Linked DNA regions of Homo sapiens: regions 2 and 3 are each reported to be linked to region 1. Evidence: microRNA targets listed by miRTarBase, many of them from high-throughput screens and not tested one by one. Region 1 holds a microRNA gene; each other region holds the end of a gene's coding sequence. Distances are from middle to middle.
Evidence for each region. Region 1 holds the annotated microRNA hsa-miR-6878-3p (CUGGCCUCUUCUUUCUCCUAG, at 2,219-2,239, shown strand). A microRNA usually pairs through its seed, bases 2 to 8, with sites in the 3' UTR of a target mRNA and lowers its output. Matches are read on the target gene's strand: a 7mer-m8 pairs with bases 2 to 8, a 7mer-A1 pairs with bases 2 to 7 and ends in A, and an 8mer does both.

Region 2: miRTarBase lists PCP4L1 as a target of hsa-miR-6878-3p. Seed matches in the 3' UTR shown: 7mer-m8 at 1,845-1,851.
Region 3: the mRNA of TMEM186 is a reported target of hsa-miR-6878-3p. The part of its 3' UTR that is shown has no 7-base or 8-base seed match.

What each region holds. Positions count from the first base shown.
Region 1 is chr1:150,490,172-150,495,263 of GRCh38, forward strand. MIR6878 (microRNA 6878) reads left to right here and starts at 2,174; the gene lies at 2,174-2,239. It overlaps TARS2 (threonyl-tRNA synthetase 2, mitochondrial), which reads left to right. Exons shown (of 18, transcript NM_025150.5): 4 at 430-554; 5 at 1,223-1,340; 6 at 1,427-1,491; 7 at 2,240-2,318.
Region 2 is chr1:161,283,459-161,288,550 of GRCh38, forward strand. It overlaps PCP4L1 (Purkinje cell protein 4 like 1), which reads left to right. Exons shown (of 3, transcript NM_001102566.2): 2 at 210-264; 3 at 881-1,992. The coding sequence ends at 1,023. LOC105371472 (a long non-coding RNA gene) reads right to left here and starts at 885. Exons shown (of 2, transcript XR_922213.2): 1 at 1-885.
Region 3 is chr16:8,791,817-8,796,908 of GRCh38, forward strand. TMEM186 (transmembrane protein 186) reads right to left here. Exons shown (of 2, transcript NM_015421.4): 2 at 3,364-4,774. The coding sequence ends at 4,136. Among named protein-coding and RNA genes, the nearest start is that of TMEM186, 3.3 kb to the right of the region's middle. RefSeq lists a silencer at 164-343.

The sequences.
Region 1 (5,092 bases):
GCAGTGGCGCGATCTTGGTTCACTGCAACTTCCACCTCCCGGGTTCAAGTGATTCTCCTGCCTCAGCCTCCTGAGTAGCTGGGATTACAGACACACGCCACCATGCCTGGCTAGTTTTGTATGTTTTAGCAGAGACAGGGTTTCACCATGTTGGCCAGACTGGCCTCGAACTCCTGACCTCAGATGATCCGCCTGCCTTGACCTCCTGAAGTGTTGGGGTTACAGGCATGAGCTGCTGTGCCCAGCCTTTTTTTTTAAGCTTGTTACTTTTTAGTGGTCACCCCCAAAATCTAGGATCCCCATTTTGTGGTAGTTATTCCTAGAAGAACCATACCGGCTTTCCTACCAGCTTTTGTGAGGAAGAGCTCAGAGATCTAGGGGTTAAGGGAGAAGTTTATGAACTTGTGAACCCCTTTTTTGTGAACCCAGGTGTTCTGGCACTCCAGCACCCATGTCCTGGGGGCAGCAGCTGAACAATTCCTAGGTGCTGTTCTCTGCAGAGGTCCAAGTACAGAATATGGCTTTTACCATGATTTCTTCCTGGGAAAGGAGAGGTGAGTAATGAAAGGAAGGAGGAGAATGATTCTGGGATGGTTTCTGAGGCTCTTTTCAGGGGCCTTGGGCATGCTCCATTTGGATGAGGAAGCTGGAGGAGAAGGGTTTCTCTAGGTCTCAACTATGACATTAGTATCTCCTTCTGTGCTAGTCCATGTCCCTCTTCTAACTTTGCTTGAAATTTACCTTCTTGGCTGGTGCACATGTAGTCCCAGCTACTTGGGAGGCTGAGGTGGAAGGATCACTTGAGCCTGGGAGGTTGAGGCTGTGGTGAGCCATGATCTTAACCACTGCACCCAACTTGTGTGACACAGCAAGACACTTTCTCAAAAAAAAAACAAAAAGAAAAAGAAGAAACAACTTACTTTGTTACTTGTTAGCTTTCATAAATTCAAGTTTTACTTAATCGCCCTCATTACTATTGTTCTAACTTTGTCTATCCAGATTTCCTGCATTCAACTTTTAACTTCATGCATAGAGCTTTTTCTCCAGCTGTAATATCTGTTACCTGATATCCTATTTATATTTTCTCTGAGTTTGTCTGTCTTTGCCTATAACTCTAGATTTCTCTTGAAGGACAGGACCTTACCCGCTAGCCAACAGGTGTGTCACCCAGGTGATTGATGCACCTCATAGGATGCAACCCAACCAATTCTCCTCTTTCCAGGACAATCCGGGGCTCAGAGCTGCCTGTTTTGGAGCGGATTTGCCAGGAACTTACAGCTGCTGCTCGACCCTTCCGGAGGCTAGAGGCTTCACGGGATCAGCTTCGCCAGTTGTTCAAGGTGGGGTGGAGGGAAGAGGTGGCTCTTCCAGGACATCTTTGTGGGAATAAACACTTTTCTTCAATCTCCCTTCTACCTTTTTCCAGGATAACCCCTTTAAGCTTCACTTGATTGAGGAGAAAGTGACAGGTCCAACAGCAACAGTATATGGGTAAGAGTTGTCAAGATTAAGGCAAACAGAGAGGTGGGGAAGCATTGAAGAAGGCCAGAAATGCGATAAGGGAAGAAAGATAGAAGGTAATTTGTGTTGCTCCAGAAAAAGAAATGGGAATGGGAATTGATTTTTTTTTTTTCTTTTTTTGAGACGGAGTCTTGGTCTGTCTCCCAGGCTGGAGTGCGGTAGCACGATCTCGGCTCACTGCAACCTCCGCCTCCTGGGTTCAAGTGATTCTCCTGCCTTAGCCTCCAGAGTGGCTGGGATTACAGGCATGTGCCACCATGCCTGGCTAGTTTTTTTTTTTTTTTTTTTTTTTGAGATGAAGTCTTGTTCTGTCACCCAGGCTGGAATGCAGTGGCGCGATCTCGGCTCACTGCATCTCTGCCTCCCGGGTTCAAACAATTCTTCTGCCTCAGCCTCCCGAGTAGCTGGAACTACAGGCATGCACCACCATGCCTAGCTAATTTTTATATTTTTAGTAGAGACGGGGTTTCACCATATTGTCCAGGCTGGTCTCGAACTCCTGACCACGTGATCCACCCACCTTGGCCTCCCAAAGTTCTGGGATTATAGACATGAGCCACCGCGCCCTGCCAGGGAATTGATTTTTATCTGCCATTGCCCTCTCTCAGTAGGACAGTTCCTTTCTCTTCACCTCTTCTGTCAGCTAAAGACCATGAGAGGGAGAAAGCTAGAAGCTGAAGATTCTGAAAATCACTAACTGGCCTCTTCTTTCTCCTAGGTGTGGCACATTGGTTGACCTTTGCCAGGGCCCCCACCTTCGGCATACTGGACAGATTGGAGGACTGAAGCTGCTATCGGTCAGTTGTGGGACAGAGTTAGGTTAAGATTCCTATTTTGAGCCGGGCATGGTGGCTCACGCTTGTAATCCCAGCACTTTGGGAGGCTGAGGCAGATGGATCATAAAGTCAGGAGTTTGAGACCAGCCTGGCCAATATGGTGAAACCCCGTCTCTACTAAAAATACAAAAATTAGCTGGGTGTGGTGGCACACACCTGTAGTCCTAGCTGCTCGGGAGGCTGAGACAGGAGAGTTGCCTGAACCTGGGAGGCGGAGGTTGTAGTGAGCCGAGACTGCACTACTGCACTCCAGCCTGGGCAACAGAGCGAGAGTCCATCTCAAAAAAAAAAAAAAAAAAATTCCTGGTTTCACTGGGATGAGCAGGAGAATCGGAAGGTGATACTTTCTGTCGGCACCCCCCTTTTTTTTTTTTGAGACCAAGTCTCTCGGTCGCCCAGGCTGGAGTGCAGTGGCGCGATCTTGGCTCACTGCAAGCTTCGCCTCCTGGATTCAAGCAATTCTCCTGCTTCAGCCTCCCGAGTAGCTGGGATAATAGGTGTGCACCACCATGCCCAGCTACTTTTTGTATTTTTAGTAGAGACAGGGTTTCACCATGTTGGCCAGGGTGATCTCAAGTGATCTTCCCTTCTCAGCCTCCCAAAGTGCTGGGATTACAGGCATGAGCCACTGAGCCTGGCCCTGTACTCTCATAAGCTGAGCGGGGAATACAGGAGAAAGAAACTTTGTCCCCACATTCTAAAAACCCGTTTGATGGCACACACTGGACAGCCTGCTAGGGCCCAGAAGCCAATTCAGATGCCCTAATATGATGTCAGTATTAAGGGGGGTGGAGGGGTGGAGCAGGAGGGTGTGAGCAAGCTGGATGGGTCATACAGGGAAGGGTTGTAGAGAGAGGGGGCGTGGTCCAGGAGGAAGATGAACACCATTTGACAGGCACAGGGAAAATACCTTTAGTAAAGGGCATGCTTTTTATGAAAATACCGTTCTGCATGGTGGCTCACGCCTATAATCCCAGCACTTTGGGAAGCCGAGGTGGGTGGACCACCTGAGGTCGGGAGTTCAAGACCGGCCTGACCAACATGGAGAAACCCCGTCTCTACTAAAAATACAAAATTAACTGGGCGTGGTGGCACATGCCTGTAATCCCAGCTACTTGTGAGGCTGAGGCAGGAGAATCACTTGAACCTGGGAGGTGGAGGTTGTGGCGATCCAAGATCGTGCCATTGCACTCTAGCCTGGGCAACAAGAGCAAAACTCCGTCTCAAAAAAAAAAAAAAGAAAAGAAAATACTGTTCTGGACAAGAAGAGTTACTAGATGGAATGGGATGAGTTACAAGGGAGCAAGGGGAAATGCAGATGTGTAGAGCAAAAAGCTCTGAACTTAGACTGGGCATGGTGGCTCATGCCTATAATCCCAGCACTTTGGGAGGCCAAGGTGGGTGGATCACTTGAGATCAGCCTGGCCAACATGGCAAAACCCCATGGCGCGGTGGCCTTGGGTAAATCTTACTTATTTTCCCCATCTATAAAATGAGGCTATTAATTCCTTTTTGTCCTACCAGTAAATTCACCTCATAAAGATAATGAAAACCAGGCCAGGCATGGTGGCTCACACCTGTAATCCCAGCACTTTGGGGAGGGTGAGGCAGGCGGATCACTTGAGGTCAGGAGTTCGAGACCAGCCTGGCCAACATGGTGAAACCCTGTCTCTACTAAAAATACACAAATTAGCTGGGTGTGCTGGCCTACGCCTGTAATCCCAGCTACAAAAAAGGCTGAGGCAGGAGAGTCACTTGAACTCTGCCAGGAGGCAGAGGTTGCAGTGAGCTGAGATTGTGCCACTGCATTCCAGCCTGGGCCACGGAGCGAGACAACATCTCAAAAAAAAAAAAAAAAAAAAAGATAATGAAAACCAACTAATTCAGGAAAAAGGAAAAGTTAAAAAGTGCTGTAAAATACAGACTGTCGGCCAGGTGCGGTGGTTCACACGTGTAATCCCAACACTTTGGGAGGCCAAGTTGGGCGGATCACTTGAGCTCAGGAGTTCAAGACCAGCCTGGCCAACATGGTGAAACCTCGTCACTACTAAAAATAAAAAATTAGCTGGGCGTGGTGGCATGCACCTGTAGTCCCAGCTACTCGGGAGGCTGAGGCAGGAGAATTGCTTGAACTGGGAGGCAGAGGTTGCAGTGAGCCAAGATTGCACCACTGCACTCCAGCCTGGGCAACAGAGTGAGACTCTGTTTCAAAAAATATACATATAGGGGCTGGGCGTGGTGGCTCACGCCTGTAATCCTAACACTTTGGGAGGCTGAGGCGAGTGAATCACGAGGTCCAGAGATCGAGACCATCCTGGCTAACACCGTGAAACCCCGTCTCTACTAAAAATACAAAAAATTAGCCAGGTGTGGCCGGGCGCAGTGGCTCACGCCTGTAATCCCATCACTTTGGGAGGCTGAGGCAGGCGGATCATGAGGTCAGGAGATCGAGACCATCCTGGCTAACACGGTGAAACCCTGTCTACTAAAAATACAAAAAATTAGCTGGGCGAGGTGGCGGGCGCCTGTAGTCCCAGCTACTTGGGAGGCTGAGGCAGGAGAATGGCGTGAACCCTGGGGGGTGGAGCCTGCAGTGAGCCAAGATCACGCCACTGCACTCCAGCCTGGGCGACAGCGAGACTCCGTCTCAAAAAAAGAAAAAAAAAATTAGTCGAGTGTGGTGGTGGTGGCCTGTAGTCCCAGCTACTTGGGAGGCTGAGGCAGGAGAATGGCGT
Region 2 (5,092 bases), 11 Mb from region 1:
CTCTACACTTTCTAGCATCAGTAAATCTTTGCTGGATGAATTTTGATAACTTTTCCTCTGGTCTCTGATCTCAAGACTTGCTTCTTCAAAAGACTAAGGGAATGCACCTGGTAATAGGGTTTGAGAGTATATAAGAGGTCTAAGGTGATGATGCCTTCAAATTACTTCCATGAATATCTAATATTCTGATATCCTAATATTTTTTCCAGCTTAATACCAAAACATCCCCAGCAACCAACCAGGCAGCTGGCCAAGAGGAAAAAGGTGAGTGGGGTTGGGCTAGGCAGTTTGTAGAGCAGGTGACTGTAGAGACATAAAGACAAGTAGGGTGAGTCTGGAATTTCCTAAAGTCAGACATGAAAGGAATAAGAATGTGGATAAGTGAAACAAAGTACCAGTTTGGAACTACAGTACTATATCTATAGGCTTCCTTCTATTTTTCCTAGAAAGTAAACGATCAGTATTTCCTCCTTGATTTTAGAAACTGGGTCTGGAGTGTTGGGGGGAGAGAGGTACAAGATAAGAAGAAACTCATCAAAAGTCCCAGCATTATCTCCATCAGAAACTGAGAGAAAGCTGAGGAAAGTGAGTGTGCATTGGAACTTGAACTGTAGGATTTATGAATAAGTGATGAAAGAAGACATTTGTTGTTTGGTCCAAGAGTAGCAGAGCTCCCCTAAGTAACTATAGCTAATTCCCAGCCTAAGTACCTTGACTCAGACTTCTAGGGGAATTATCAGGCATTCATAATCCTAGCAAAAATTTGGGGACCCCACAGAGTCTGGCACAAGGTGGACCTTACCCACTGTATTGGGGGCCTGGAGAAAGGGTCTAGAGCAGGTCAGATTAACTCATTAATGAGTCTCCCAACTATCTGCAGGAAAAGCTGGCAATGTCAAGAAGGCGGAGGAGGAGGAGGAGATTGACATTGATCTGACAGCACCAGAAACAGAGAAGGCTGCCCTTGCTATTCAGGGCAAGTTCCGGCGATTTCAGAAAAGGAAAAAGGATCCCAGCTCCTGAATGGCCAGGCTTGCCCTTCACCTTCACCTTCATGCTGGTCCCTTCTCTCCCCTTCTCCACACCCATGTATCTTTATCCCTTGTCCCTCTAGCCTTTCCTTGAGGCAAGTTCAACCTTTATATACTCTTGTATCTGGCCCCCTCAAGCCATCACAGAAGTAGAGGCACAAGAGAGGTGGAGAAGATGAAGACTTCAATCAGCAGTCACTAGTCTAAGGGTGGAACAATTTCTTCTTGGTATAAGGTTCTTTGATCAGTAGCTATGCCTGCCCTGTAGGGCTAAACAAGAGGCTTCGAGGCTGAGAGATCTCCCCAAAGAACAATGTGGGAAGGAGGGGAAGGCTTTCAGAGTAGGGTGCCTGAGGGTGGGACATATGCACTGTTCTGCTAGTTACGGCATTCACACTTTAGGTAACATTTTTTTTCCCCTTCAGATCCTTCTGCACCAACTCCAACTTCCCCTCCCAGGATCTAAGCCACAGTGGGGACTGGAGCCTCGTTTTCCCCCTAGGCAGACCTAAATCAAGCAGCTTACCACAATAGTGCATGCTGAGTAGATTAGTTCCAAGGAAGGGAGACTGGAATGCTGGTGTCAAGGAAAAGCCTCCCTCATCATCTAGTCTAAGACCATAACGGGCAGAAGCATAAGAGGTTCCAGGGCCATAGGAGAATGAGAAGTAGGGCACATATAGGGAGGAAAGAAAAGTGAAGAAGGGGGAAATCTCTGAATTTTTTTACTGCTGGGAAAAGTGTACTACATGAAGGATGCTTGGGGCTTTGCTAACCTGCTCACCGCTAACCCTCCAAGTCTAACCATCCCCAGAGGCCACACAAACCAAGTGACTCCTGTAGTTCCCATTTGCCCCACTATGGAGTCAGGGCAAAAGTGGAATAGCCACTCCATGTGATTTTAGCATGTTTAATCATTTTAACAATAAACCACCCCACAAATGGGGTCATTTAACCTCTACTAATGTTTTTTTCTTGGGAGGAATGTGAGTATAAGCCTGAGCTGGCCTCAGGGAGTGGGGTGGAGAAGCAACTGCGTTGACTGCGTGGTAGCGCAAGAAACTAACACTGCCTGAGCAATTTTCAGACTGAAGCCAACCCTCCCTTTCCCCCACCCCTACTGACCTTGCCCTCACCTTGATTTGCCACCCACATTGTCTCTGTGTTGCTGTCACCACCCCCAGGGTGCACTTGCAAGAGTGCTCATTTTTCCTTTCTCCTTCCAGCTGAGAGCGTGCTGGGTACACATCCCTCTGAAAACAAACCTGGTCTTCCTTGCTCCGGATTCCCAAATGACCTATCCTAGATTTCCTTCTTGCTTTGTCTTCCTCCCACATTCTCCCCTCCCCTCCCTCTTGTTTATCAGATGCAAGGAAAGGAAAAGACTGGTCACTAGAGAGCACCACTGTTACATTAAAATTTTAATCCACTAATTACATAAAATTATGGCTTTCAAGTAGCTTAAATTGCTGAGAAATTACCTCTATATGCTAAAACCGGAAGCCAAATGTTTAAAGATGGAGCAAAGAATGATCTATTTTTTTTTTTTTTTGAGATGGAGTTTCGCTCTTGTTGCCCAGGCTGGAGTACAATGGTGCAGTCTGGGCTCACCGCAACCTCCGCCTCCCAGGTTCAAGCGATTCTCCTGCCTCACCCTCCCGAGTAGCTGGGACTACAGGCATGTGCCACCACGCCTGGCTAGTTTTCTATTTTTAGTAGAGATGGGGTTTCTCCATGTTGGTCAGGCTGGTCTCAAACTCCCAACCTCAGGCGATCTGCCTGCCTCGGCCTCCCAAAGTGCTGGGGTTACAGGTGTGAGCCACAGCACCCGGCCTTTTTTCCTTTTCAATTGTTTTTGTTCTGGTAAAATATACATAACAAAATTTTTCATCCTAACCATTTTTAAGTGTACAGTTTAATAGCATCAAATACATTCAATAATACTGTGTAACTATCATCGCTATCCATCTCTGTAACTCTTTCCATCTTGTAAAATTGAAACTCTACACCTATATCCTTTAGACAGTAATCCCCATCTCCCCTCTTCCCAGCCTCTGGCAACCACCATTCTACTTCCTATTTCTAAGTCCCCTTACTTCTTCATATTTACCCTTCCCTTCTTGATTTAAGAATACAGAAGTCAGGCCGGGCCCAGTGGCCCATGCCTGTAATCCCAGCACTTTGGGAGGCCAAGGTGTGTGGATGACCTGAGGTCAGGAGTTCAAGACCAGCCTGGCCAACATGGTAAAACCCTGTCTCTACTTAAAAAATATAAAATTAGCTGGGCATGATGGCAAATGCCTGTAATCCCAGCTACTTGGGAGGCTGAGGCAGGAGAATCGCTTGAACCCAGGAGGCAGAGGTTGCAGTGAGCAGAGATGGCACCACTACACTGCACTCCAGCCTGGGTGACAAGAGTGAAACTCTGTTTCAAAAAATATATATATATGTATATATATATGTATGTATATGTCAGCTGGAGGCCAAGTGCGGTGGCTCATGCCTGTAATCCCAGCCCTTTGGGAGGCCAAGATGGGTGGATCACCTGAGGTTGGGAGTTCAAGAACAGCCTGACCAACATAGAGAAACCTCATCTCTACTAAAAATACAAAATTAGCCTGGCGTGGTGGCACATCTTTTTAATCCCAGCTACTTGGGAGGCTGAGCAGAAGAATCACTTGAACCCAGGAGGCAGAGGTTGTGGAGCTGAGATCATGCCATTGCACTCCAGCCTTGGCAACCAGAGTGAAACTCCATCTCAAAAAAAAAAAAAGTCAGCTGGGCACGATGGTGCATGCCTATAATGCCAGCTACTTGGGAGGCTGAGGCAGGAGGATCGTTTGAGCCCAGGAGTTCAAGGCTGCCATGAGCTATGATCACACCACTGCACTCCAGCCTGGGTGACAGAGGGAGACCCTGTCTCTGAAAAAAAAACGTGTATGTGTGTGTAAACCATGTGGCAGCTATGAATGGGAAACAAGGAACAATATCCCTAGAAGGTAACCTATAGCTCAAAGTTTACTCATGCGTAGCAAGCCCGTTGCCATAGGATATGAGGAGAATTGACCAGTAATTCATTGGAAGGTCCTATGTTAAAGGAATTCCCCCCTTCTTCTGATGCCAGGGAAAAGGAGGAAATTTTACTGTTACTTTTGGAATCTGTTCTGAGTACAGTATGGTAATGATGGTGAACTTTGGTCCCAGCCTCATAGGCAAATAAAAGGATAACCTCATTGCCACACCTGCTGTGTGTCCAGTGTGTCTGATAAAGCTGGAGTATTCCCCCTTCCCTTGTTCCATGGACATAAGATGAGAATTGATGGGTGCTGTACCTGGTCTGCCCCTGTGGGTACTAGGGTAAGGCAGGGGCTTCCTCTTTTTGGTGAAGTGAACTTTTGTGGCTGGTGCTAAGGCAATGCTGGAGTCCTTTGCCACCAGCTCCTCTCTTGCAGACTCTGCTGCTTGGGGGTATCTGTTTATTTGTTTTTTGCCACACTGATCTGGAGCACAGTGCTGAAATGATTTTTCCCTTTACCATCTCTCGCTTTAAAAATGTTATGCTTGTTCTCATGCTCATACTCATATTTTTAATAAAGGGCATGGTAGCAAAAACATAGTCATTGCTTTGGGAAAGAGCTCTAACCAGAAAGAGAGACTTGGGCATCTTTTGCTGAACAAATGGTAGTTCTCAATGAAGGTTCTGAACACTGTTTTCTCTCTGCCATGCTACTTATTCCTATCATGGGCACTCAAACTGAGCCTCTTTTCTCTAGCATGCCTATAATTCCTCCTTGGGGCCCTGGGCTGAGGCTGGGATCTTGGGGCTCTAGAACCTTGCTTCACTTCCCTGTCCCTCTAGTACCTACTACTGAAGAACTAATCCTCAAATACTAATCACTGAGGAATTATTCTTGAGTGCTTTCTTTTGTGGAGCAAAAACTGAGTATTTGGGGAATGGGTGAATGCCTTTATAAATGGCTTAGCAGAAAATACAAGCATAAGAAACAGTCAAGGAAGAAAGTTAAAAAGAAGAAACTCATTTTTCTTATATTCAGCACTTC
Region 3 (5,092 bases), not on the chromosome of region 1:
TGTTGCCCAGGCTGGTCTTGAACTTCTGGTCTCAAGCGATCTGCCCACCTTGGCCTCCCAAAGAGTTGGGATTACAGGTGTGAGCCACTGCACCAGTCCTTTTATTGCTTCTGTTGTTGACTTTGGTTTTTTGGGGGCAGCTCTCAGGTACTACCCTACTGGTGCATGACAGAAGCCCTAACACATTTCCTGTTATCTGGTGGACATCTGTGATTTTAGCTTAGGGATACAGCGTTAGAATAATGCATTTGCTCTGTGTGCCCTCTGCTGGTACTGCATGAGCAGACCACACATGGAATGCCTGCATGGGTGAGAATCTGGTCTCACCTCCCAGGGCAAGCCCCTTGCAGACTTAACAGAGTGGTGATTCTCCAAAGGCAGCGATGGTCAACCATGTTAGAATCACCCAGGGAACCGTGAAAATAAAAATGCCTGGTCATGGGCTTCGACAATGGGGTTTTTAAAACACTCTCCAGGAGATTCTACACATAAAGCCAGTGTTAAGAACCTATTCTTTGGGCAGAAAATTGGCCCAGGAACACAAAGTCCACAGAACCATGTGTCACTCTGGTGTCTTCTGTTCTAGTAATGTATTTCAGAAATTCCCAGCCTGCCTGAATCTCAGAATTGGCTTCAAGCTGGTCAAAAAAACAGATCCTGGAAATCCACCCCAGACATAATCAGAATATCCTGGGGTGAGGCTCACTCAGGTCATTACTTACAACCCAACAGAGAGAATTTTTGGTTTTAATGAGGTTAAGGTCAAATCATTATGACTTCTTAAGACATTTTTTAGCCACAGGCTTTATCTCTTCATGGGGAAGGGAGTCACAGTCACTGAAGGAACTGACAGGCAGGTGAAGGCAAGGTACAGAAGGAATGAACAGCCACGTGTAACTGCTATGCACATGTCTCTTCTATATAATTGAATCTTCACTACACTTCTTGAGCATAAATAGTAAAACCCTGTTATACCGAGAGGATACTGAAGGGGAGGCGGTTAGTTCTCTTTGCAGGCATCTAGGGAGAAAGCCTTCCAGGCAGAGGGAACTGTCAATGCAAAGGCCTTAAGGCTGGAATATTCTCGATTACTGGAGAACAGCAAGGCAGTCGTGACCTGGGGGAATGATCTCCACAGAGGTGCGGATGAGGGAGGGAAGGGGAGGGTGGATTAGGCCATCAGCCTTCACAGCAGTGACGTGATTCTGTTTTTAAGCATCACTTTGACAGCTGCAAAAACGGACTCAAGTAAAGCAAGGATGGAAGCACAGGACAGAAGCATCGAAGTGAAGGGCCAGGCGTGGTGGCTCATACCTGTAATCCCAGCACTTTGGGAGGCCGAGGCAGGTGGATCCCTCGAGTTCAGGAGTTCGAGACCAGTCTGGCCAACATGGCAAAACCACATCTCTACTAAAAGCAGAAAAATTAGCTGGGCATGGTGGTGGGTGCCTGTAATCCCAGCTACTCAGGAGGCTGAGGCAGGAGAATCGCTTGAACCTGAGAGGCGGAGTCTGCAGTGAGCCAAGATCACACCACTGCAACCCAGTCTGGGTGACAGAGTAAGACTCCATCTCAAATTTAAAAAAAAGGAAAAGTAACCACTGTTGACAAGAATGTAGAGAAACAGGAACCCTTGTCTGTTGCTGGTGAGAATGTAAAATGGTACAGCTGCTGTGGAAAAGTGGCAGGTCCTCAAAAATAAACAGAATTACCACAGGATCCAGTTAATCCACTTCTCAGTACGTACCCAAAACAACTGAAAGCAGGGACTCAAACAGATACTCGTATACCAGTGTTCACAGCAATAGCCAAATGTTCATTCATCAGTAGTCAAAAGGTGACGACAACTCAAATGTCCATCAACAGATGGACAAACAAAATGTGGCACACACAGAGAATACACACTGCACCCGTAAATATATTTAACCATAAAAAAGAAATAGCACTGACATATGCTACAACACGGATGCACCTTGACAACACTACACCAAGTCAAAGAAGCCAGATACAGGCCAGCCGCACTGGCTCACGCCTATAATCCCAGCACTGTGGGAGGCCGAGGTGGGTGATCACTTGAGGTCAGAGATTCCAGGTCAGCCTGGACAACATGGTGAAACCCCATCTCTACTAAAAATACAAAAATTAGCCAGGCTTGGCGTCAGGCACCTATAATCCCAGCTACTTGGGAGGCTGAGGCAGAATCATTTGAGCTGGTGAGGCGGAAGTTGCAGTGAGTGGACATCGCGCCACTGCTCTCTGGCCTGGGAAACAGAGCGAGACTTCAACTCAAAAAAAAAAAAAAAAAAGAGCCAGATACAAAGGGTCACATATTGTATGATTCCATTTATATGAAATATCCAGAACAGGTGAATCCAGAGGGACAGAAAGCAGGTTAGTGGTTGCCAAGGGCTGGAAAAAGAAGGAAATTATTGCTCAATGGGTATATTAGTTCTGTTTGGGATAATGAAAATGTTCTGGAAATAGATGGTGGTGACGGTTGTACAACATTTTTTGTTTTGTTTGTTTTTGAGATAGTCTGGCTGTCTCCCAGGCTGGAGTGCATTGGTGCAATCTCGGCTCACTGCAACCTCTGCCTCCCGGGTTCAAGCTTCTCAAGTAGCTGGGAATACAAGTGCCCACCACCATGCCCAGCTAATTTTTGTATTTTCAGTAGAGACAGGGTTTTGCCATGTTGGCCAGGCTGGTCTTGAACTCCTGACTTCAAGTGATCCACACGCCTCAGCCTCCCAAAGTGCTGGGATTACAGGCATGAGACAGTGTGCCCAGCCTGTACAACATTGTTAATATACTTAATGTCCCTGAATTGCACACTTAAAAATGATTAAAAGGATAAATTTGTTAGGTGTATCTTGGTATGGTTAAGAAAAATGGAAGGCTACACAATAAAAAAAAATATTTTTTTTTTGAGACGGAGTCTCACTCTGTCGCCCAGGCTGGAGTGCAGTGGCGTGATCTCGGCTCACTGCAAACTCCGCCTCCCAGGTTCACACCATTGTCCTGCCTCAGCCTCCCGAGTAGCTGGGACTACAGGCACCTGCCACCACGCCCAGCTAATTTTTTTGTATTTTTTAGTGGAGACACGGTTTCACCCTGTTAGCGAGGATGGCCTCGATCTCCTGACCTCGTGATCCGCCACCTTGACCTCCCAACGTGCTGGGATTACAGGTGTGAGCCACCGCCCCCAGCGATAAAACATTCTTATTGACTTTCGAGTGGCAAAATAATAAAGATCATGCCTTCCTTCCTCTTTACTGTGTTACAAATTGTATAATGAACATATATTATTAATTATGTGGGGCAATGTATATAACTGGCTTAAGTTTATAAAATAACGTACCAGCATCCGGTGCATTTGGCTTTATTACACTGCAGGGCCATCCAAAGCAAGAGCCTCTAGACCTCTGGGTGGTGAACAAATCTCAACTGGGGTTTCGTGCCTACCTGGACGACATCTGCTCGTCAATGTGTAGTTAACATCCTGACAGACCCTTCTGCCGCTGGATATGTGAGGGGCACAGCACAGGGCTCTGGAAGTCCCTGCTGACTGCTCGAAGCCTTTCTCCCTGCTAAAACCTCTGACCAAATGCTTAATAATATCTGCTGTAGGCTGTTGAGTCTGCCACACGTTTGACATTTATTGTTTATTCCCACACCCATCCCATGAAACAAGCAGGACTTTCCATTTTACAGATGTGAAAACCAAGATTCAAAGAGACTCAATAACCTGCTCCAGGACAAATGACAGAACTGAGACTTCTGACTCCAAATCTTACGCTCCCCCGCCACACCTCTTTGCCTTTCTCTTTCACACCAATGGACTCTATGGGTGACCTTGGCATAGGTTCTTCTAAGAACTGGCTCTTAACAAAAACTTCTGGCCATTATCTGACTGAATGTCACAAACAAGTGCTGTAAGAACTTGCTTAGAGCCTTTTTCCTAAACCTGTACACCAGCTCTTGCCTTGTGAATTTATTCACCACAAAACACATGTTCCCAGGGGCCCAGGCAAAGTCTCCAAGTACCCAGTCCCCTTTCTTCAGCCTTGCCCACACCCTCAGCCTTCCTGTTAATCCAGGCGACCCAGGGTTACCCAGAGGTCCAGGTCCCAGTTGTTCACTTGAGCATCTGATGTACCCCAAACACCTGTGTGAAACGCTCTCTGTCCAGGATGCGTCCATAGCGCAGGGTGACGTAGAAGGTCTGTTTCCCACTGTACCGCTGGATACGCACAAACATCTCCTGAGGCCGGTCCTTGGTTTCTGTCAGGGGAATCACATCTGCCATGGGACAGTATGTGTCCTGCCGCCAGCCCCAGAAGTTCAGATGGGCCACCCGCAGCATGGTGCCAGACTCATTCAGATACAGGATACCAACCAGTCTCCGTAAGAAATAGCTCATCCAGCACAGCATGGTCAGGGCAAAGCCCGATATCCCACTCATGAGGCACACGGTGTTGAGAGTGAGGAGGCCCTGGGAGTACAAGTAATAGCCTGGTGGCAAAGCTACCACTGTCAGGGCAGTCTGTGCCAACTTCAGTCGTGACAGGAACCCGAAGGTTCTGATGGCATCAAAACGGTAAAACATCCAGAATTTCTCAGTCTCTGCGTTTGGTAGTTTCTCCTTCGAGATGGGTGAACTGCTGCCCACCCACCTCTTAGGATCCTCCTGCCCACTGCAGCACCACAGCCCATGGAGAGGCCTTTCCCACACAGCTTTTCCCCGAAACCTACGCACAGCTCGGAGAAGGGCAGCCTGAAAGGGAGACAGTAGACCATTTCTCTCATGGAACTCAACCACATTAATCACACGGTGAACATCTGCAAAGCACCATACTCTAAGGCTTCTGCCAATCCTGCAAGGTAACCGTTATTGCCAGACGAGGGAAGGGTAAAGCCAGATGCTATCTCATGTGGGCATCACAACAGCTATCTAAGATAGTTATCACTATTTCCACTTTACCACTAGGGAAACTAAGCCCAGAGAGGGTAAGATATTTACCAAAGATCACACAGTCAGTGAGTGCAGCAGAGTCCTCCTTCCACCAGGCAATTCCAAATAAATACAGGAAAG